Linked DNA regions of Homo sapiens. Each later gene encodes a partner of the first gene's protein in a complex. Each region holds a gene or a part of one and is shown in the gene's direction. Other genes may lie near its edges.

The links.
Region 2: the proteins of INTS11 (region 1) and BRAT1 are in contact, whole or in part, in a cryo-EM structure (PDB 8UIB), measured with the Homo sapiens proteins. Residues at the interface, in NP_060341.2 of Homo sapiens: Leu9 (codon at 6,161), Val15, Gly16, Lys27, Met35, His36, Met37, Gly38, Phe39, Arg43, Asp47, Tyr50, Thr58, Asp59, Asp62, His70, Leu71, Asp72, His73, Asp87, Gly88, Gln97, Pro101, Ile102, Glu105, Arg108, Lys109, Val112, Asp113, Lys114; in NP_689956.2 of Homo sapiens: Asp25, Thr27, Cys28, Glu30, Lys31, Asp34, Pro117, Ser156, Ser157, Leu158, Phe159, Ser162, Lys358, Ser359, Cys366, Arg367, Arg424, Arg427, Thr465, Lys468, Lys469, Trp514, Glu515, Asp518, Ser519, Glu522, Tyr560, Ser564, Ser604, Glu605.

The regions. Positions count from the first base shown.
Region 1 is NC_000001.11:1,319,489-1,330,744, reverse strand, and holds the start of INTS11 (integrator complex subunit 11), read left to right. Parts: upstream 1-6,084; 5' UTR 6,085-6,136; coding exon 6,137-6,164; intron 6,165-7,457; coding exon of another isoform or gene 7,458-7,568; exon of another isoform or gene 7,569-7,853; intron 7,854-8,760; coding exon of another isoform or gene 8,761-8,837; intron 8,838-9,651; coding exon 9,652-9,749; intron 9,750-10,215; coding exon 10,216-10,289; intron 10,290-11,220; coding exon 11,221-11,256. Other genes in the region: CPTP (ceramide-1-phosphate transfer protein), read right to left, coding at 2,982-3,504, 3,713-3,834.
Region 2 is NC_000007.14:2,545,481-2,555,883, reverse strand, and holds the start of BRAT1 (integrator complex assembly factor BRAT1), read left to right. Parts: upstream 1-359; 5' UTR 360-397; exon of another isoform or gene 398-843; intron 844-1,436; 5' UTR 1,437-1,452; coding exon 1,453-1,579; intron 1,580-4,918; exon of another isoform or gene 4,919-5,014; intron 5,015-6,759; exon of another isoform or gene 6,760-6,818; intron 6,819-8,405; coding exon 8,406-8,560; intron 8,561-10,403. UniProt on the Homo sapiens protein: Component of a multiprotein complex required for the assembly of the RNA endonuclease module of the integrator complex.

The DNA.
Region 1 (11,256 bases):
CCCTCCCAGTCTGCTTGGGAGCAGAGTTCCTTGAGGGTCTCAGCCCTTCTGCCAGAGTCTGACGCCTGGAAGCTGTAGGAACCGCATGGCCAGCTGTACTCACACTGCTGACCCCCGTCTGGGCCACTCCTGCGTGGCAGGCACACAGGTGGCTCCTGCTGGGGGTAGAGTTTGTTTGCCAGGGGGGCACGCAAACAAGGGAGGAAGGGCCACAGGCAAATGAGCGGCAGCTGGAGCAGCACCAGGTGTGCAGGGCCGGGACTCCTCTGCCTCTGTGTTGCTTTGGGGGTGCCCTCGGGGACACAGCAGACTCCAGGCGCAGGCCCTCCCAGGGGAACTGGGGGGCACTCAGCTTCAGCTAGGGCCTGGCAGACCTAGCAGATACCAGGAGGTGTGCCCTGGCTGGTGCTTCTTCCCCATGGTGTTGTGAGGAGGACCTGTGAGGGACACACACTACCACCGCACATGCATATGGCACATGCTGAGCACACGTGAATATGGCGCACATGCGAACCTGGCACACGAGCACAGGAATGCGGCACACACACAAACGGCACATGCGCATGGTACACGCGAATGGCACATGCACGGCACACGTGCATGGGACACGCACGGCACACGCAAGGAACACATGCATGGCATGCAAACGGCACACATGCATGCCACACGTGCACAGCATACATGCAAATGGCACACGTGTACGGTGCACACGAATGGCACATGCGCATGGTACACACAAATGGCACACGCACGGCAAGTGCATGGCACACGCGCATGGCACACACAAAACGGCACATGCAAATGGCACACACACGGCACACACAATACACACGGAAACGGCACATACACAAATGCCACACATGCATGGCACGCAAGCAAACGACGTGTGGCACACGCGCATCGCACGCAAATGGCACGTGCATGACACAAATGGCACATGCAAACAGCACACACATGGTACACGCAAAGCACATGGCACGCACATGCGCACAGCATACGCTCACAGCACACACGGCATACACAAATGGCACACATGCACGTGGCACACGTGCACGGCCAACACGCAGCACATACGTGCATGGCACATACACGAAAACAGCACACGCTCACGGCCAACACGCATGGCACATGCAACTGGCACCTGCACATTGCACAGATGGCACACATGCACATGGTACATGCAAACAGCACATGCAAACGGCACACGTGCGGCACACGCAAATAGCACACTCGCACTTGGGACACGCAAACGGCACAAGCATGGCACTTGTACAGAAGGCAACACCCGGAGGGAGCCCTGCCCTGGGGCCCACGCAGACCCAGGCAGTTCTCCCGGCCCATACTGCAGTCGGCAGCCTTTGCCGGCACCATATGCAGCTCCCACAGACCCTGAGGTGGGGGTGACATCCAGGAAGACTCTGCTGAATTGCATCCCCTTTCTGTCCAGGCCACTGTTGTGGCTGGGAGTGGCCCCCACCTCCACGCACACATCCCACGCAGGCCTCTCCTCTTTTGCATGGAGAGGCGGATGTCTGCCCTCCCAACCGTCCTCCCAACCCAGCCTCTTGGTTCTGGGTGACTCTGTCTCTCTCTTGTCTCACCTGTACAACAGGCATAGTGATGGGACCTCTCTGGGAGAATGGGCACACAGCAGCCCTGCCTCCAAGGCTGGCCTTTTCTCAGGGTGTTTGTTGAGCCCTGGGGCTAACACAGCCCCCTGAGCCTGGCAGTGGGGCCTCAGCTCCCTTGGAGTTAGGTGCACCCACCTCAGCTGTGTCCCTGGGGTGAGGGCCCTCCCCACCCTCACTGGGTGCCCCTGTGTCCCCCTGCAGGAAATCAGGCACCCAGTGCACCCCAGCGTCTCCCTCCTGGGAGGCTGTGTGATTTATTAACGTTGGAAGACATCACATAGATTGCACTCTGGAAGCTCGCATGTCTGCTGGGCCGTGGGGGCCGTCCCTCTGCCACCCCGAGGTGCTGGGGTCCACTGTGAAGAGCCAGTGGCCAGGCCCCAGGCACTGGATGGTGGCTGGGCTGGTTGTGGCTGTCTGGTAGCCTTTGGCTGGGCCACAGGGTCCAGACCCTCCTGTTCCGTGCCCCACGGGTCTCCTGAGCACTGTGGGGAGGGGGCATCAAGGGGCACGGGGGAGAAGGGACACAGCATTTCACTGGGTGTAGCAGAGTCCCAGCTCCTGGGGGCCTTGGGCTGGGCTGGGCTGTGCAGACCCACGGCCGCTGCGGGAGGCGGCCTGCTGCGTCCCTCGGGGAACTGGTGCCGTGCAGGGGCTACGGAGGAGGCTGTCCCAAGGGCGGGGACTTCCTGGGCCCTTCTGTGAGGAGCCTTGGTCTCAGCTTCCGGCTGTCCTGCCCCCAGTCTGCCTGGCACGCTGAGGGGCAAACAAGGCAGGAGAGGCGGGGAGAGCCCCACAGTGCCCAGACTGCTGTTGAGGGTTTCTGCCAGCCAGGGCATGGAGGGCACTGAGTCCCCTGGGCTCAAGGCTGCCCACCTGGGCAGACACGGGGTCCCAGGCACGGGCCTGAGATGAGGACACATCGGCTGGCAGAAAGGAGAAAGGATGGAGCCTCCACACCCCGGGACCTGTGACTTCACCCTGGTTCGCAGATGCACCCCACAGGCTAGGGGGTGGCGACCTTTCGGGCTCTTGCAGGCCCGGCCCCCACCCCTGCCTGCTCTGCTCTGCACCGCACCCTGGCGAGGCCTGGCTGCGCACGCGTGTAATAGGCCGAGGGGGAGCCGTGGCCGAGGCGTCTTGTTCCGGACCGAGAGGGTGGGCCTCTTCTGGGCTGGTCGCCACCTTCTCTGTCACAGTCTGTGGTTCCTAACCAGCTCAGCTCACAGGGGCGACAGAGGATCTCCTGTTCCCGCAGCGCCCAGAAGGCTCTGCCACGGGACTCACGGCCCTGGCCACCGCAGCCCAGATCTGCAGCAGGAAAGCCGGTGCGGCCCTGGCTTCCCGCCCCTAGGGCAGGTCCAGCAGGGAGTGCTCGGCGTAGAGCTTCTGGGAGACGTTGTAGACACGCTGGATGAAGGGGAGGGCCTCGCCTAGCATCTGCACGGCCTGCTCCGGGGGCCCCACGTTCATGGCCTCCAGGAAGACCTCGCGTGTGGGCAGCGTGCAGAAGGCCACGGTGACGGCGCGGCGCACGACCCAGGGGTGGTAGGCGGCCAGCGAGGCGTTGTAGGAGTCGGCGCAGAGCGCGGAGGTGCGTGCGTCCTCGGGGCTGGTACGCAGGCCCTCCAGGAACAGCTGCAGCCAGTGCAGGGCGCGGTGCAGGCGCAGCACCGTCCGGCAGCCAGACTCCGGGTGGTGGGAGCGGCGCTCCAGGTCCACCAGCCGGTTGCTCAGCTCGTGGGCCACCATGGCCTGCAGGCTGCGGTAGTGCTCGCTCTGCGGGCCGCCCCTGAGGCGCTCCATGATCCGCAGCTTGGAGACCACGTCCTTGGAGATGAATGAGAAGATGGTGCCCAGGCTGTTCAGAAACCTGTGGAAGGGAGCGGGGCTCGAGTCCTCGCCCAGGCCTGGGGCAGCCCGCCTGGGGTGCAGGGGACGCTGCCCAGCCTGCGGGGGCTCACACCCATCTGGAAACGGGCAGCAAAGCTGGTGGGGACAGGCAGTCGGGAGGCAGATGCCACATATGGGACTCGGGCCAGGGGAGCGCCCACCTCAGGAGGCAGCCCTGGCACACGCACCTGACCAGGCCCTTCCAGCTGGCAATGTAGGGGTCCAGCAAGACCTCTTCCTTCTCATCGAGACACTGCTTGAAACTGACCAGGACGACTTTCAGATTGAAACCTGTCTCCGAGTCATCCATTTTTTGATAGGAACGGAAATACAGTAGGGCTGGGGGGCTGTGTCGCTGGGGTCAGCTTGCTCTGTGGCTCATTTTCTGTGTGTGGAGGGGAACAAAATAGCTGCGATCCCATTGCCGCTCACTGAACACTCATGCCCCTCATGGAGCTTCCTCCCAGGAGCTGCCTGGCTCTGCTCCCAGCCAAGCCGCAGGCTCTCAGGCACACCACCCTGACCCACCCTTCATCAGGATTGCGCATTCAGGGACCTTGGCACAGCCCCTCCTGTGGATCAGGCCACTGACTCCGTGTCAGTCCCTGACCCCGAGAGTGGCCCCCTCTGGCTTTATCAGACCACTAGGCCCCGCTGTCTGCAGCAGGTGTCTCTGCTGGTGCTTTCTTGTTTTTGTTTCTCTCTCTAGATGCTGTATCTGCTTTTACCAGCTGGAGAAATACTAAGCCCCTGCCGAGAGCCAAGCACCATCCTAGCCATCTATCTGGGTGCATGGGGAGTGCGAGCAGCCATCTGGGGTGGGGTCAGATGACAACAAAGACAGGAAGTTCTGAAGTCCTAGACAAGAAAACAGACACAGCAGAAAGCAGAGACAGGTGGGGCCGGGGGTGGGGGGATGCTGCCGGGCAGGCTGCCCCATCTTCCTCACTGCTACATCCCCAAAAGCAGAAAAGAGGCTGTAGGGCTGGCACTTGCTGGATGGATGGACACGTGTTTTCACTCCTGTTGCTGAAACTCCATGTCCCACACAGATGGGTTTTACCACTCAGAAGATTGCCACGAGGCTCTTGTACTAGCCCTAGGGAGCCTTCCACGAGTGGCCCAGGCCCTGCTTTGGATTCTGCTGGCATTCACATAGTCACTCCACAGATCCACAGACATCCAGGCACCCATGCTTTGTGTGAGTGTTGCCAAGCACCCTTGCCCTGTCTCCCCGGGTGCCCCACGGGCCCGCACCTGCTCTGGGGAACCTGAGAGTCAGCTGCATTCCACCTCGACCAGGAAGAGGGCCTGGGGGTTCCTAGGCCGGTTGGTGCTGGGAGCCCTGTCCTGGCCTCCCTGGCTGCAGGGACTCCATCGGTGGGGGAGGGGGAAGGGCACCCAGCCGTGGTGAGAGCTCCTGGCCAGGAGCAGGTGGGCAGGTTGCTCAGCACCCTAGGACTGGGCCCTTCATCACTAGGGATCATGGGCTGCAAGCCCTGCCCAGCCCGTGGCCCAGGCTGCTGGAGCACTGGTGCCTGCAGGGTGCTGAAGCCTGGCGTTGCAGGCCCCACAGGTTGGGTTGCATGCTTGGCACCAGGCGGAGGCCCCAGATGTGAGCTCACCGGGCTTCAGGTGTGGGGGATGGCTGCTCCTGGGCCTCAGAAAGATGCAGTCCCATAGACTTCCAGCACGCCCCTCCCCTCCTCGGGCCTTAATTTTGTCCACTGAGAAGATGGTCTCTGAGGCTCTGGGGTTTCCTTCTTGGTCACCAGATATTCTGCGGGCCTTGCCTTCCTGCCCAGATTCGAGCCAGTGGCAAACAGAAGCTGCCAGGAGCTTCTCAGAGCTGTGGCTGGTGGCTCGGTAACAACAGGAAGGGCAGTGGCTGTGCAGGAGGCAGGCAGCTTGCCAGCCCAGGAAGGTGACCCAGGACACCTCCAGGCCTTTCCCAGGGCAGCCCAACGGCCCAAGGTCAGGGCCGGGCGCGAGGGCGGCCTGAGCACAGAGCACGGGGGCTGACAGCAGGCTGGGGGGCCAGCAGGAGACGGGGCCCCACGGCGCCCCAGGCCTTGTGGGTGGGACCAGACCCTGTCGAGCGAGCGCTACGAGTCTCACCTGGGAAGGGGGCTTCAGATGGCACCGGACTGGATGGGCACCGGTTCGGGTCCCTGCTCCACCGAGAGGCCCAGGAAGGGGCGGAGGCCCGGGGTGGTGTTGGGGAGGGGCCGACCTGAGCCACGGCTCCGTCCTGCGCGGGAGCCGGGTCCTCGGCCGCCCGCCCGCTCCGGCCCTCTAGGACGACGTCCCCTCCCGCTCCCGGCCCCTCGGCGACTTCCGGACCGTGCGGGTTGGGTTGGGCAGGTGCGGCCGCCGAGTCCGAGCCGCTCACCTAGGCCGTAGCCGCCGTGCGGGCCCCGTCCCCGCCCACCGCCCCGCCCTCGCCCCGCCCTCGCCCGCCGCCCTGATTGGTTGGATGCTGCCCAATCAGGAGGCCCGGCGCCCCGACCCGCGTTTCCGGCTAGCGCACCGGAAGTTGCAGCGAGGTGGTTGCGCCTGCGCAGTGCATCACCGCAGGCGGGCCTCGCGGGTCCGGGAGCGCGGCGGAGACGATGCCTGAGATCAGAGTCACGCCCTTGGGTGAGTGGGAGCCGCCGGGAGGGCTGTGGGGTGGGCTCCGTATGCGGCTCCGGGCGGGCTGGGCGCCCCGCTCCCTCCCGTTTCTCGTGGAGCCAGGTGCGCGCCGCGGGCGTCCTCCGGTCTCCTCCCCGCGCGGGCCCTGGTGGGAGCCGAGAGGCGGCCTAGTCCCTGCACCCCGGGCCTCCGGCAGTGACGCGAGAACGCGAGCCCCGAGGTTCAGGCGGCCGTGAGGGGACGTCGCAGATGGGGCCGCGGGGCCTTCGCGCTCGCTGTGCGCTTTCGTCGGTGCCTTGACCTCCCCGTGCCGCGCGCTGCCGCCTCCAGCCCTACCAGCCCTTCAGTCCCTTAGCCCCTCAGCCCCGCAGACCCTCAGCCCCCCAGCTCCCCAGCCTCTCAGCCTCCCAGCCCCTCAGCCCCCCAGCCCCTCAGCCCCCCAGCCCCCCAGCCCCTCAGCCCCGCAGACCCTCAGCCCCCCAGCTCCCCAGCCTCTCAGCCTCCCAGCCCCTCAGCCCCTCAGTCCCTCAGCCCCCCAGCCCCCCAGCGCTCCAGTCCCCCAGACCCTCAGCCCAGCAGACCCTCAGTCCCCCAGCCCCTCAGTCCCCCAGCCCCTCAGCCCAGCAGACCCCCAGACCCTCAGCCCCCCAGCCCCTCAGCCCCCCAGTCCCCCAGCCCCCAAGCCCCTTAACCCCGCAAGCCCCTCAGCCCCCCAGCCCCGCTTCTGCCTCCTCACGTCTTGCTTTCTGTCCACCACTCTGTGTGCTCACGCCCGAGTTACAATCAACTCTCACTTTAGCTCTTGTTCTACCTGATTTCTGCAACACTGAAAAAAATAGCAAAAAACGCAAATATGTACTCCTAAAAGTCCTGACAGTCTGGGCACTGTGGCTCACGCCTGCAATCACAGCACTTTGGAAGGCAGAGGTGGGAGGATCGCTTGAGCCCAGGAGTTCAAGACCAACCTAGCCAACATGGCAAGACCCCATCACTCCAAAAAAAAAAAATGCTAAAATTGGCAGGGCGTGGTGGTGTGTGCCTGTGGTTCAAGCTACTTGGGAGGCTGAGTTGTGAGGATTGCTTGAGCCCAGGAGGTTGAGGCTGCAGTGAGCCATGATTGTGCCACTGCACTCCAGCCTGGGTGACAGCAAAACCATGTCTCAAAAGAAAGTCAAAGTCGTAACAGTATAGAACGATGTGAAGAAGGAAAAAATTAGTCAAAATCCAGGGTCTCAGAAACAGCTGGAGGGACATGGTGTTGGTGGCCAGTCATCCTGATGTCCTTAGCGTTTTCCACAGGTGCCTGCCCTGTGCTGTCCTGGAACCTGGTCCTTCCACCGGGCAGGGGGTCGAGGGCACCTTCCAGCACAGACACCAGGACGGGATTCCATGTCCTCCCCCATGGCGTGAGCGCTTCCTCGGAGGGTGCCCCCCGCCCCGGTGTGGACACTGTGCTGTGAACACCCCTGGCCTGTGCACACCCCATGGCATTTTGCAGCTGTTTGCATGGGCCCCACTGCCCTCCCCTGCTCTCTGGGTCCTCCGTGGGGTCCTCCCAGCCTGCCCCTTTCCCATTTGGCCTCTTGGCTGCCTGTTCTGCCCACTCTCTGGACATCTGATCTTTCTGATCTTTCATGTGGCTTCAATTACCCGCAATCTGTACCTGGGTATATTCTCAAGGTCACCTCAGCCAAGGTATCATCAAAGCCGAAGTCCTGTTTCACCGCTTCCCTGCACCAGGGACTGCCTCGGGCTCCGTGTCCGCGCTCACTGGACCACTGCTGTGTCCTTGGGGTCACTCCCACGCCTTGGCCTGTGTGTGGCTACCCCCCCCGCCGCCGGTCCCCCTACCCACCCTGCCCATCCCTCCCCACCGCCGGTCCCCCCACCCACCCTGCCCGTCCCTCCCCCTGCTGGTCCCTTCCCTCCCCCCTGCCTGTCCCTCCCTGCTGCCTGTCCTCCCTCCGCCCGCCCCGCTTCTTCTCCTCCCCTGGACCATCCCTTCCCCACCCCGTCCCTCCCCCTCCCCCACCCTACCCCTCCCCTCCCCTGCTCAAAAGTTGGCTTCTCGGAGCAGTCTCCTGTCATGGTTCTGGAAGTTTTGAGGCTTCCTCATTCTCTCACCTTGCTCTTTTCTGTCATAGTAACCTTCGTCTGGCGTGCTTTGGGTGTCTTGTTTGTCTGCCGTCTGTCTCCTTGCTGACAGGGATATCTCCTCCTGTCTTCTGAGCCCTGTCCCCTCGTGTATCTCCAGGCTCTATTCCCGCACCTTTCCACTTTCCTTCCTGGGATCACTGTGGGTCCTGTCGGGAGGCGGGACTGCCAGTACTTCAGGACTGGGCTTTGGAATTCAGAAAACCAGCCCGGGCCCCATGCCTCGGGGCCGTGTGCCACAAGTGCCTCTGTGGCCTTAGGTCCCTGGGCATGAAGAGGGGCGGCCCTCCCTTCCCACAGGTGCCAGAGGGCCTCTGTGAGCCTGGCGTGGCTTGGGGTAGGAGATGCAGAGGGAGGAGACAGCTGAGACCCTGCTCTCAGAGAGCTCACACCCAGCGGGGGCAGGAACAGGCCTGGAAGAGAACCTGAGATCCCCTCTCTGTGGCAGGCAGCCCCTCGGCTGTGGCCCCGTCATCCTGATGTGTGGTGCTGGCTTTGGACACTTCGAGTGGCTGGCAGGGGGAGGTGGGTGGGATTCAAGGGGAAAACTGTTCACTGCCATCAGACTCCTGCCCAGGCACAGTCTGTGCAGGGGCCGTGACCCTTTCCTCTCGGGCCCCCAGGCCACATGAGGGGGCTGAGTGTGCCTTGGCTGGCCAAGGCCTCTGGCTGGAGCAGCTGGGCAGGGCTGCTTGGCTGTCAGGAGTGTGGGAGGGCTGCAGATGAGGGTCTGTGTTGGGGGCTGCATGGTGTGCAGTGGTGTGAGGCTCGTGTTGCCACGCTGGCCACTGCTGGACCACTGGCACCGTGTTCGCTATGGCATGGCTGAGGCTGTGTGGCGCCCCTCCACAGCCGCACCACCAGAGAACACCCAGTGCCAGCACTTAGTCACTTACTGCCTTGCCTGCCTGGGGAAAGATCCTGGAGAAGGTGGCCTCATTGGTTTGCAGCTCTGCTGGGGGTCCAGCCACAGCCCAGGAGTGACTCTGACCGAGGTGTTGGCCCCACAGACCAGCCGTTGTCTCTGTTGGAGGCTGAGGGCCACAGCACAGTGCCCACTACTTAGCCAGCAGGCCGTGGCCACCTTAAGAGGCCAGGGGAAGCTGGCGGGGGAGGGCGTGTGGGCTGCCAGCCTCCACCCTGGACATGATGGTGTGGGGCATGGTCCCCTGTGTCCCCCTTCCTGTGAGTAGGGGTGGCCCTGCTTCTTGGCCCATGTGTCTGTCCACACAGCAGACTTGGTCCGGTTTCCTCAGTGCACTGGGGTCCTGCAGAGCTTGGGGAGGCAGCACAGGGGGCGGGGGGCGCAGCAGTGACTCATCTGCCCTCCCTCGAGTAGGGGCCGGCCAGGACGTGGGCCGAAGCTGCATCCTGGTCTCCATTGCGGGCAAGAATGTCATGCTGGACTGTGGAATGCACATGGGCTTCAATGACGACGTGAGTCCCTTGGGCAGGAGGCCCAGAGGCTGGGAGAGCCGGCCATCCACAGCTGGACCCTGGGCCTCAGAGCCGGGACAGTGGGGTGGTGGGCAGCAGTGGTTGTGCTTGGATGGCTGCACCCTGTGGGGAGCAGGGATGGGTGGGCCTGGCCGAGGTGAGCCCCTGCATGGTGGGGTCCCCCTGTGCTGGCGCTGAGCCCCAGCCCCGGGGTCCTGTAGGCTGGACTCCGTGAGACCCTGGGCTCAGCTTCCAGCTCACATCTGTCAGTGAGGTTGGGGGTAACCTCGGCCCCTCCGGATGCTGTGAGCAGCCAGGGGTCCTGGTGCCACCTGCGGGATGGGAGTGCCCAGCCTGAGTCTGCACATAGAACCCCCCTTCCTGGGGGCCCCTCCCTGGGGCATGGGTGGCCCCAGATGCTGCCTGGAGACCACTGTGCAACCTGAAACCCCCACATCCTTCCTAGCGACGCTTCCCTGACTTCTCCTACATCACCCAGAACGGCCGCCTAACAGACTTCCTGGACTGTGTGATCATTAGGTGGGTTCCTGTTGGGGGCCTTGAGGGTCCCATGTCTGTGCCTGTGGGGCTTGGGCCACCTTGCTTGGTCTCGGCAGCGTTTGGCAAGGGGCCTGTGCCATCCTTGATCCTCAGGGGGCTTCTAGGCCCCAGGATCTGCTCCCTGCCTGCCTTACTGGTCACACACATGGCCTGGTCTCTGTCTGTTCTTCCGGCCCTGCCCTCTGAACCCTACTTTCTGAACCCGGCCCTCCAGGCTTCACCCTCTCTGATGCCTTCACTGTCTCAGGATCTTTAAACCCCACTGTCTTGTTGGCGATTCCAGAGTCCCGAGTCTGCCCTGACCCCAGCCTTTAGGGTTCAGCAGCTCATGACCCGCTGGTCTGGGTGGCCTCGTCTGGACGGCCACAGCACTCCTGCTGGCCCCCTGCCCTTCCCTGCCCTGTCCTCCCCAGCAGCCAGGCCCGTGAAGCCTGGAGAAGCCCCTTCTCCTCTCCGGAGGCAGTGTCCTCAGCTGCCCCTGAGCCCCTCGTGGTTGTGGTTTCTTCTCAGACACGGTGGGGTCCCCAGTGCCTTCCTGGGGCTTGCCAGGCGCTGCCCTTGCCCTCAGGTCTGTGCCACCTTCACCTGCAGCTCCACTCAGCCTGTCCTGACTGCCTGAAAAGCCAGCGGCTCCCCTATGCGCGGTTCCCTCAGCAGCTTTGCATTGTCTCGCGAGCATGTCGCCGTCACCGACGTGTTCAATTTCCCGTTTGCTTATTGCCTTGCTAGACTTTGAGACTGAAAGTTCCAGGGAGACAGTTTTGTGTTTGCTCATTACTGACTCTTCGGTACTCGGGATGAGGCCTGGCGCACAGCAGGCGAATGAAGGGGCCAGTGACCCACAAGCCCAGAGCGGGGGTGAAGGCTGGGGCAGGGTGGGCCCAGGCTGACCTGTGCTGCGTCCCCCTAGCCACTTCCACCTGGACCACTGCGGGGCACTCCCCTA
Region 2 (10,403 bases), on another chromosome or scaffold:
GGCACATAGTTTTCTCGCTCCCGCCGGTGCAGACACTGGGCGCCCTGCAGGCGAAGCCCCGCCCCTCCGGACACAACCCCGCGCCTTCCTCAGAGATCCCCGCCCTCGAGACGCCCCGCCCACCCACCGGATGCTCGGCATGAACCACTAGGCGCCTGGCGGGGGTGATCTGTCGGAGCGACCGGCTTGGCGCCTGCCTGTCCCCAGCCCCTCTCAGCTTGAACTCCTTCCTTCAAGTCTGGGCCCTCGAGGCTTCCAGAGCGGCCTCCAGGGGTGCAGTCTCAGTTCCCCACGCCAGCCGTCTCCGTCCTCCGCCTCCTCCGGGCCTGGCAGGTGGCACTGTCCGGAGGCGGAGCCTTGGGCGAGGGGTGGTTGCGGCGGAGGACGCAACCGAGCGGTGAGGCGCGTGGGCCTTCGGGGGTCGAGGTCGTGGTAGTGGGGCGCGGGGAGGCCAAGACCCGGCCGAGGGGGGCGGGCGGGCCAGGGAGCAGCCCAGCCCGGGGCGTGCGCGACCTGGGCTCGCTTCCCAGCCCGACTGTGGCCGCCTGCTCTGGCGCCCCTTCTGGACTCTCGGGCCTGGCGCTCGCGGCCAAAACTGACTTCAAAGTGTGGGGAGGGTTCCTCTTCCCGGGACGCAGCCTTCCCGGGCATTGGCAGACGGTGCCCCGGTTAGACAGAGCCGCTGACCACCCCGCCCACCCCCGAGGCTGGACGCACGGATGCACACCTGGTCCTGGGAGAGACAGGCGCCCCTTCCTTTCCGCACCCCGCCGCCCCCCTCTCCCCCCCGCCGGCTTCAGATGCAGCCACCACTAATCCTGGGAGGGACAGACACACGGACAGGTGCCCCTTCCCCTCCTCACCCTCCTACTGGCTGCAGAACAGCAAATGCAGCCACCACTGACCCTGAGAGGGACAGACACACGGACAGGCGCCCCTTCCCCTCCGCACCCCCCTGCTGGCTTCAGGACGTCAAATGCAGCCACCACTTGACGCTGGGAGGGACAGAAACTTTCCAGCCCAGGCTGGCCCTGGGGCATGGGTAGACATCCCCTTGCACACATGGCTGACCCCGGAACTCAAAGATGCCCCTGACTCTGGCCCACCTGCAGCCTGGGCCAGCACCACGCTGTTGCCCCGACTGCACCAAAGACCAAGGGTGACAGACTTTGAGTTCCGGAGGCCTTGTGGTTTCAGCTAGACCCTCATCTGCCCCTTTCAGCCCCGCCACCAGCGCTCAGGGCCCCACCTAGACCAAAGCTTTGCATCCATCCCTGCAGTACAGACCTCTGGTCTGGGGATCATGGTTCTCCTGGTCTGAGATGAAAGTTCTGGGGCCCCTTCCCAGGCCTGAGCAGGCATGGTGGGCTGCTGTGACTAGAGCGAGCTGGGTCTGGAGTGGGCATTGAGGTTTGGCTCTCACATTGCCTTTGCAGGGCCTGCGGCCTCACCATGGACCCAGAATGCGCCCAGCTGCTCCCGGCTCTCTGTGCTGTTCTGGTAGATCCCAGGCAGCCGGTGGCAGATGACACCTGTTTGGAGAAGCTCCTGGACTGGTTTAAAACGGTCACTGAAGGAGGTAAGGAGGTGGTGCTGCTGTTTACTGCCTATCCAGAGACCAGACGCAGAGGCTGGGACAGGGAGCAGGGGCCAGATGGGGACTCCCCTGTCCTGGAGGAAGGGCAGAAACTGCCAATCAGATGTCTTTCCTTCACTTCCTAAGGATTATCTGTGGCAGACTGAGGGCAAGTTAAGATGAAGCCCGAGAGAATGATCTGGAGAGTTAGAGCCTGAAATTCAGCCAGTTGAGCCACGATCAGGGCACCCCAAGGTTCAGTTCTACAGAAGGCGTGAACAAACTTGTTTTATTGTTGTTCTCGTTGTATTTAGTGTGTTTAAGACATCAGATTTGTTTTCTTTCTGATTATGAAAGTAGGGGCCGGATGCAGTGGCTCATACCTGTAATCCCAGCACTTTGGGAGGCTGAGGCGAGCGGATTGCTTAAGTCCAGGAGTTCAAGACCAGCCTGGTCCAACATAGCGAGACGTCATCTCTAAAAAAAAAAAAAACAAAAATTAGCTGTGCCTGGTGGCGCACCTGTAGTCCCAGCTACTCTGGAGGCTGAGATGGGAGGATCCTTTGAGTCCGGGAGGTAGAGGTTGCAGTGAGCTATGATTGTGCCACTGCACCCTGACCTGGGTGATAGAGTGAGACCCTGTCTCAAAAAAAAAAAACAAAGTAATACATGTTCTTTAAAACATGAACAAAAGAGTAAAGAGGAAAATTAAACCATCAACGTTTTAATTTACTCCCAGCCTTTTCATAACACATAAAGCTGTATTTTTCTGGGGAAAAAAAAATGAGGTCATACTGTAAACACAATTTTGGTGTCTTGCTTTCTCTCTTGCTATCATAGTGAGTGTTTTCTCCACATAATATGTTAATGTTATTGACTACATGTTATTTGCTGTAGGAATAGACCATAATTAATTGAATCACTCCACTGTCAGATGTTTATATTTCTCATTTTTCATCATTTTAAGTAGTGTCATAGGTCAGGCGCGGTGACTCATGCTTGTAATCCCATCACTTTGGGAGGCCAAGGCGGGTAGGTCACTTGAAGTCAGGAGTTCGAAACCAGCCTGGCCAACATGGTGAGACCTCGTCTCTACTAAAAATAAAAAAATTAGCCGGGCATGGTGGCATGCGCCGTAATCCCAGCTACTTGGGAGACTGAGGGGGAGGATCGCTTGAACCCAGGAAGCGGAGGTTGCAGTGAGCCCAGATCGTGCCACTGCACTCCAGCGACAGAATGGACTCTGTCTCAAAAAAATAGTGTCAGTCGAGCGCGGTGGCTCAAGCCTGTAATCCCAGCACTTTGGGAGACCGAGGCAGGCAGATCACGAGGTCTGGAGATCAAGACCCTCCTGGCTAACATGGTGAAACCCCGTCTCTACTAAAAATACAAAAAAAAAAAAAATAGCCAGACGTGGTGGTGGGCGCCTGTAGTCCCAGTTACTTGGGAGGCTGGGCAGGAGAATGGCGTGAACACAGGAGGCAGAGCTTGCAGTGAGCCGAGATCACGCCACTGCACTGCAGCCTGGGCGACAGAGCGAGATTCCGTCTCAAAAAAAAAAAAATAGTGTCATAATGGCTTTCCTTTTACATAAATATTCTCGCATGTAAATGTTTATTCTCATGGTTGATAATTGCATTGGGATAGACTGCATGTTGTTAATTTCTGCTATTCTTTACTTCCTTTTTTTGGTTTACCGTGTTCTTTTATTCTTTTTATTTTTAAATTATATTGTATTTTTTTTTTTAAGGATGGGGTCTCACCGTATTGCCCAAGCTGTTTTCGATCTCCTGGGCTCAGGCAGTCACCTGCCTCTGCTTCCCAAAGTGCCTTTTACCCTCTTTGAGCTAAATATCTAGGTCTTCCTTGTTTTCTAATATATATATTTAAGGCCAGGCACGGTGGTTCATGCCTATAATCCCAGCACTTTGGGAGGCTGAGGCAGGCAGATCACTTGAGGTCAGGAGTTGGAGACCAGCCTGGCTAACATGGTGAAACCCCGTCTCTACTAAAAATACAAGAATTAGCCTGACATGGTGGTCCATGCCTGTAATCCCAGCTACTCGGGAGGCTGAAGCAGGAGAATCACTTGAACCTGGGAGGCAGAGGTTGCAGTGAGCCGAGATAACGCCATTGCACTCCAGCCAGGGCAATGGAGTGAGACTCTTGTCTCAAAAAAAAAAAAAAAAAAAAAAAAAAAATATATATATATATATATATATATATTTAAGACTATGCATTTCTCTAAAAGTATGACTTTAGCTACATCTTACACGTTTTACATTGCAGTACTTTGGTTTTAATTTAGTTCTGAGTATTTTATGCTTTTCATTATAATTTTTTTTTCACCCACAAGTTACTTAAAAGAGTATCCTTTAGTTTCAAAATATGGATTTTTCCAGTCTTTTTATTATTGATTTTTAATTTACTTTGTGGAGGTTAGAAAACATAACATATGTTTTGAATCTTTATAGCTGTTGAGACTTTTATTGAGACATAGGACCCAGGCGAGTTTTCTCAATGTTCTAGAGATTTCACTATATGATTTTGATGTTTTGGTATTTGAAGGTCTTCAACTGTGGCCTAGTTTGTAGTAGTCAGTTTTTCTTTTTCTTTTTTTTTTTTTTTGAGCCAGGGTTTTTGCGCGTCACCCAGGATGGAGTGCAATGGCGTGAACACGGCTCACTGCAGCCTTGACCTCCTGGGCAGTCCGCCTGCCTCATTCTCTTGAGTTCCTGGGATCAAGGTGTGTACCAGGCCCAGCTATTTTTTTTTTTCCCATAGAGATGAGGTCTCACCATCTTGTCCAGGCCAGCTTGGAACTCCTGGGCTCAAGCAGTCTTCCCGCCTGGGCTTCCCAAAGTGCTGGGATTACAGGAGCGAGCCACCATGCCTGGCCTGTATTTAAATTTTAAGAAGTATTTTTCAGTAGCTTTATTGAGATATAATTTGCATACCATGCCATTCTCCCATTTAAGGTGTACCAGATCCTTTTACAGTTTGTAAGCATGAGATATATATATATCTATATATAGATATATATATAGATATAGATTTTTTTTTTTTTGAGACCAAGTCTTGCTCTGTTGCCCAGGCTGGGGTGCAATGGCACAATCTTGGCTCACTGCAACCTCCGCCTCCTGGGTTTCAAACGATTCTCCTGCCTCAGCCTCCTGAGTACCTGCGATTAAAGGTGCATGCCACCATGCCCGGCCAATTTTTGTATTTTTAGTAGAGGTGGGATTTCATCATGTTGGCCAGGCTGGTCTCGAACTCCTGACCTCAGGTGATCCCTCCACCTTGGCCTCCCAAAGTGCTGGGGTTACAGTGGAGAGCCACTGCACCCAACCTAAGCATGATAATTGAGTGTTCAGGCGCATGTGTGAGATGTGGCACCATGGAACCCTGGTATGATGTCGGTACGTGACCCGTCTGACATGAGAAATGGACAAAATAAATAAATAAATGGTACCAATTCAACAGTTCTTAGTAAATTTACAGGGCTCTGAAATCATCAGCACAATCTAATTTTGTTCCCCCTAAAGAAACCGAGTCTGGGTTCACAGTGAGTCCCTGTTTCCTCCTCCCTCCCAGCCTCTGTCATTTCTCCTGCATTGTACTTGATGGAAAGAGTGTAGTTTCCACACTCGTTCATTAGTTCAGACCTGCTATGTTCTTGCTAATTTGTTTGCTTGTTTCTGAGAGGTGTGTAAAAAGCTTACACCAAGATCATGGATTCATGATTTTTCTTTGAGATGCATCCTTTTTTTTTTTTTCGCTTTACATATTATTTTTTTCTTTTTCTTTTCTTTCTTTTTTTTTTTTTGTTTTTTTTTTTTTGAGATGGAGTCTTGCTCTATTGCCCAGGCTGGAGTGCAGTGGCATGATCTCGGTTCACTGCAGCCTCGACTTCTTGGGCTCAGATGATTCTCTCACCTCAGCCTCCCTAATAGCTGGGACCACAGGAGCCCGCCACCACGCCCGGCTAAGTTTTTGTATTTTTTGTAGTGACGGGGTTTCACTATGTAGCCCAGGCTGGTCTCAAACTCCTGGGCTCAAGCAGTCTGCCCGCCTTGGCCTCTCAAATCGCTGCAATTACAGGTGTGAGGCACTGTGCCTGGCATTTTTTTTTTCTTTTTTTTTTGGAGACAGGGTCTCACTCTGTCACTCAGGCTAGAGTGCAGTGGTGTGATCACGGCTCACTGTAGCCTCAACTTCCTGGGCTCAAGTGATCCTCCCACCCCAGCCTCCTGGATGGCTGGGACTACAGGGACACACCACCACACCCAGCTAATTTTTTGTATTTTTTTGCGGAGACGGGGTTTCACCACGTTGCCCAGGCTGCTTTACACGTTTTGAAGTGAGGTTAGGTATACATAGATGTAGGAATGTTGTGTCTTTCTGGAATTTATCTCCGTGATCAGTTAACTTACTTCTGCATGAATACTGCTTTTTGCTTTACAGCCCATTTTGTTTGCTATTTCTGTTGCTACATCAGCTTCTTTAAAGTTAGAATTTGCCTACTGTGTCTTTTCTCTCCTGCTCCCAGCCTTTCCTGTCGTTGCATTTTATTGCTTTTAGAAACACCACATTGCTTGTTTTTAGTGTTTAATTTAATCTCAGCAACTCTTTCTTTTAACAGATAAGTTTGATCTCTTTAATTTGTTGAGGCGACTGTTAGATTTGAATTCTTTTGTATTTTTTAATTTCCTGTGCCTTACCTTTGTGCCTTTATCCTCCTTTTCTGCCCTCCATCAGATTGATAAAGCTTTTTTTTTTCTTTTAAATCTTTCCTCTTCTGGTTTTGAAGTTATACATTCTATTTATGTTCTTCTTTTTAGACAAGTTCTTGTGCTGTTGTCCAGGACAGTGGTGTAATCACGGCTCACTGCAGCCTTGACCTCCTGGGCTCAGGTGATCTTCCCATCTCAGCTTCCAGTGTAGCTGGGACTATAGATGCGCGCCACCATGCCCAGCGAATTTTTATAGAGAGGGGATCTTCCTGTGTTGCCCAAGCTGGTCTTAAAACTCCTGGGCTCAGGCAATCTGCCCACCTCGGCCTCTCAAGATGCTGGGACCACAGGCTTATTTGTGTTCTTCAGTGGCTACCCTTATATTTTTAACATGAGAACCGGATTTTTTAAAAAGTCTGAAGTTAATTAGACTTTCCATTCTCTATCCAGGCAACCGAAGGACCTCAGAGCACTTGAACTTCAGGCCATCACAACCTTCTATTATTGTCGTTAGTATTTTAATTCTGTTTTGTTTCAAAACCCTTCAACAATGATTTTTTAGATTTTGAACTCAGTGGCATTGTTTTTTGTTTGTTTGTTTGTTTGTTTTTGAGACAGAGTCTTGCCCTGTCACCAGGCTGGAGTGCAGTGGTGCGATCTCGGCTCACCGCAACCTCCACCTCCCGAGTTCAAGCAGTTCTCCTGCCTCAGCCTCCCAAATAGCTGGGACCACAGGCGCCCGCCACCATGCCTGGCTAATTTTTTATATTTTAGTAGAGACAGGGTTTCATTCACCATGTTTGCCAGGATGGTCTCAATCTCCTGACCTCGTGATCTGCCTGCCTTGGCCTTCAAAAGTGCTGGGATTACAGGCGTGAGCCACCACGCCCCGCCTTTTTTTTTTTTAGAGAGACAGGGTCTCCCTCTGTCGCCCAGGCTGGAGTACAGTGGTGCAGTGATAGCTTGCTGCAGCCTCGAACTCCTGGGCTCAAGCAATCCTCCCGTCTCAGCCTCCTGAGTAGCTGGGACTGCAGATGTGTGCCACCATGCCGGGCTAATTTTTTTTTATTTTTTGTAGAGACAGGGTCTTGCTATGTTGTTCTCCTGCCTTGGCCTCCCAAAGTGCTGGGACTACAGGTATGAGCACCTCACCCAGCCTGCAGTGCTGATTCAGGTGGACATAGTGCTTTTTGGGTCCTGGCCTGGTTCTCCTCCTCTGCATGCTCCTCACTCTCCTTACTGAACCACATTCTTTCCACAGGGGCTTCTCACTGGGAAACTCTCCCAACCTTTGCCTCAAAATGTCTTTTTCCCCCACTGGTGCTTTTGAGCGATAGCATAGCTGGTTATAGAAATACAGGATGCCAGTTCTGGAGAGGAATGTTTGTTCCATTGTACCTGCTTGCATGGAGCACTGTCTAAGGAAAAGTACCCATTTGGAAGGTGAAAATGCTCTTCCACTTTTTTTTTTTTTTTTTTTTGGAATGGAGTCTCGCTCTGTCGCCCAGGGCTGGAGTGTGCCGTGTGCAATGACGTGGTCTTGGCTCACTGCAGCCTCTGCCTCCCAGGTTCAAGCGATTCTCCTGCCTCAGCCTTCCAATTAGCTGGGACTACAGGCATGAGCCACCACACCTGGCTAATTTTTTGTATTTTTAGTAGAGATGGGACTTCGCCATGTTGGCCAGGCTGGTCTCGAACTCCTGAGCTCAAGTGACCACCCGCCTTGGCCTCCTAACGTGTTGGGATTACAGGCGTGAGCCACCACGCCCAGCCTGGTCTTTCACTTTAATTTGCATTTCTTTTTCACTATCAGTGAGACAGAACATTTTTTCAGCATTTTTGGCCATTCACCTGTTGTGAAAGGTGACAGTGTTCCGCCTTTCACCTGTTGTTAAGGTGTTGGCTTTCTAGCCCTTACTGAATTAAAATTATGAGTCATTTGCCGTATTTGTTGCAGATATTTTTTTCCCAGTTGGATCCCTAAATCTAACACCCTGCAAGAAAAGGGTCTGGGAATTGCTAGGAGAAGAGCGGTCATCCAGGGGGACACCTGGTGCCGTACCCCTGGTGACCCCTGGGCTGGGCCATCCCCACAGAGTCCAGTGTCGTGCTGCTGCAGGAGCACCCCTGCCTGGTGGAGCTGCTGTCCCATGTGCTGAAAGTCCAGGACCTGAGTTCTGGGGTCCTCTCCTTCTCACTGCGCCTGGCAGGAACCTTCGCAGCCCAGGAAAACTGCTTCCAGTATCTTCAGGTGAGCCTGGGGCCTCCCACCTGAGTGTCCCGTGGAGAGGTGGGCAGGCTTTTCCTCCCGCAGCCAGGTGGGGCATTTGTAGCCATCACCATCCCAAGTCCCAGCGGCCTGCCCCGACCCTGTGTCCTCACTAGAACTGCATGTTTTTTACCCCCGACTGTAGCCCCCTTTGAAAAATTCGCCCGGAGTGATGCTGGGGCTAAGGAGTTGAGGTTTTTTGGAATAAGATGACTGGCACGGGCTCCCAGCTCTGACCAGCTGTCTGAGCTTGCCCACGGCCGCAAGCCTCCATCTCTTCCTGGGACGGAGACAGGAGTCGCAGCTGCGCCGTGGCCTCCGTCTCTTCCTGGGACGGAGACAGGAGTCGTAGCTGCCCCGTGGCCCCCGTCTCTTCCTGGGACGGAGACAGGAGTCGTAGCTGCGCCGTGGGGTTGTCGTGAGGACCAAATGAGACCGCACATCCTGCACCTCCAGCGACCCAGCCTACAAATGAATGAATAACTAATGAGAATGTGAATGACTAATGAGAATGTCTTTTTTTTAAAAAATTAATTTTATTTATTTTTATTTTATTTTATTATTATTTTTCGAGACAGAGTCTTGCTCTGTCACCCAGGCTGGAGTGCAATGGTTCGAACTCAGCTAACTGCAGTCTCCACCTCCCAGGTTCAAGCGATTCTCCTGCCTCAGCCTCCCGAGTATCTGGGACTACAGGCACCTGCCACCACGCCCAGCTAATTTTTGTAGTTTTAGTAGAGACAGGATTTCACCATTTTGGCCAGGCTGATCACGAACTCCTTGACCTCAAGTGATCCGTCTGCCTCGGCCTCCCAAAATGCTAGGATTACAGGCGTGAGCCACCATACCCGGCCTTTTTTTGTTTTGTTTTTTAGAGACAGAGTCCTGCTCTGTCGTCCAGGCTGGAGTGCAGTGGCAGCTCACTGCAGCCTTGACCTCCTGGGCTCAAGTGACCCTCCCCATTCAGCTTCCCGAGTAGCTGGGTCCACAGGTGCATGAACCACACCTGGCTAACTTTGTTATCTTTGGTAGAGATGGGGTCTCACTATGTTGCCCAGGCTGGTCTCAAACTCCTGGTCTCAAGCGATCATCCTGCCTCGGCCTCCCAAAGTGTTGGGATACAGTCGTGAGCCACTGCTCCCAGCCAAGAATTTCTACATAGCAAGGCATGAGAGCTCGAGAGCCTCCCAGAGCTGTGTCTTCCAGCTTCAAGTGCCTCAGACAGGCACCGCTGAGTCTGTCGGGATGCGTGGTGTGAGCTTCAGGGCCCTTGCCCGTCTACCACGACGGCTTCTCTTGGTGCCTCACAGGCCCTCGCCAGGTTGTGCGAAGGCACATCCAGTACCGTTAGCTTGCCGTTCACGATGCCCCCCAGTTAAGCAGCTGCAGGCTCCCTAGCAGCCCACCCAGGCACCATCTTGCTGCAGGACAGACTTTCCAAGGTGTCCTAGGGTGCTGCCGTACAGTGAATCCGGGGGCCCTTGTCTGTCAGCAGCTGGTATGAAAGTACCCTCCAGGCTGGGCACGGTGGCTCATGCCTATAATCCCAGCACTTTGGGAGGCTGAGGCAGGCGGATCACCTGAGGTCAGGAGTTCGAGACCAGGCTAACCAACATGGTAAAGCCCTGTCTCTACTAAAAATGAAAAAATTAGCTGGGTGTGGTGGTGGGCACCTGTAATGCCAGCTACTCAGGAGGCTGAGACAGGAAAATAGCTTGAGCCCAGGAGGCAGAGGTTGCAGTGAGCCGAGATGTGCCACTGCACTCCAGCCTAGGCAACAGAGTGGGACTGTCTCAAAAAAAAAAAAAAGAAGAAGAAAGTGTCC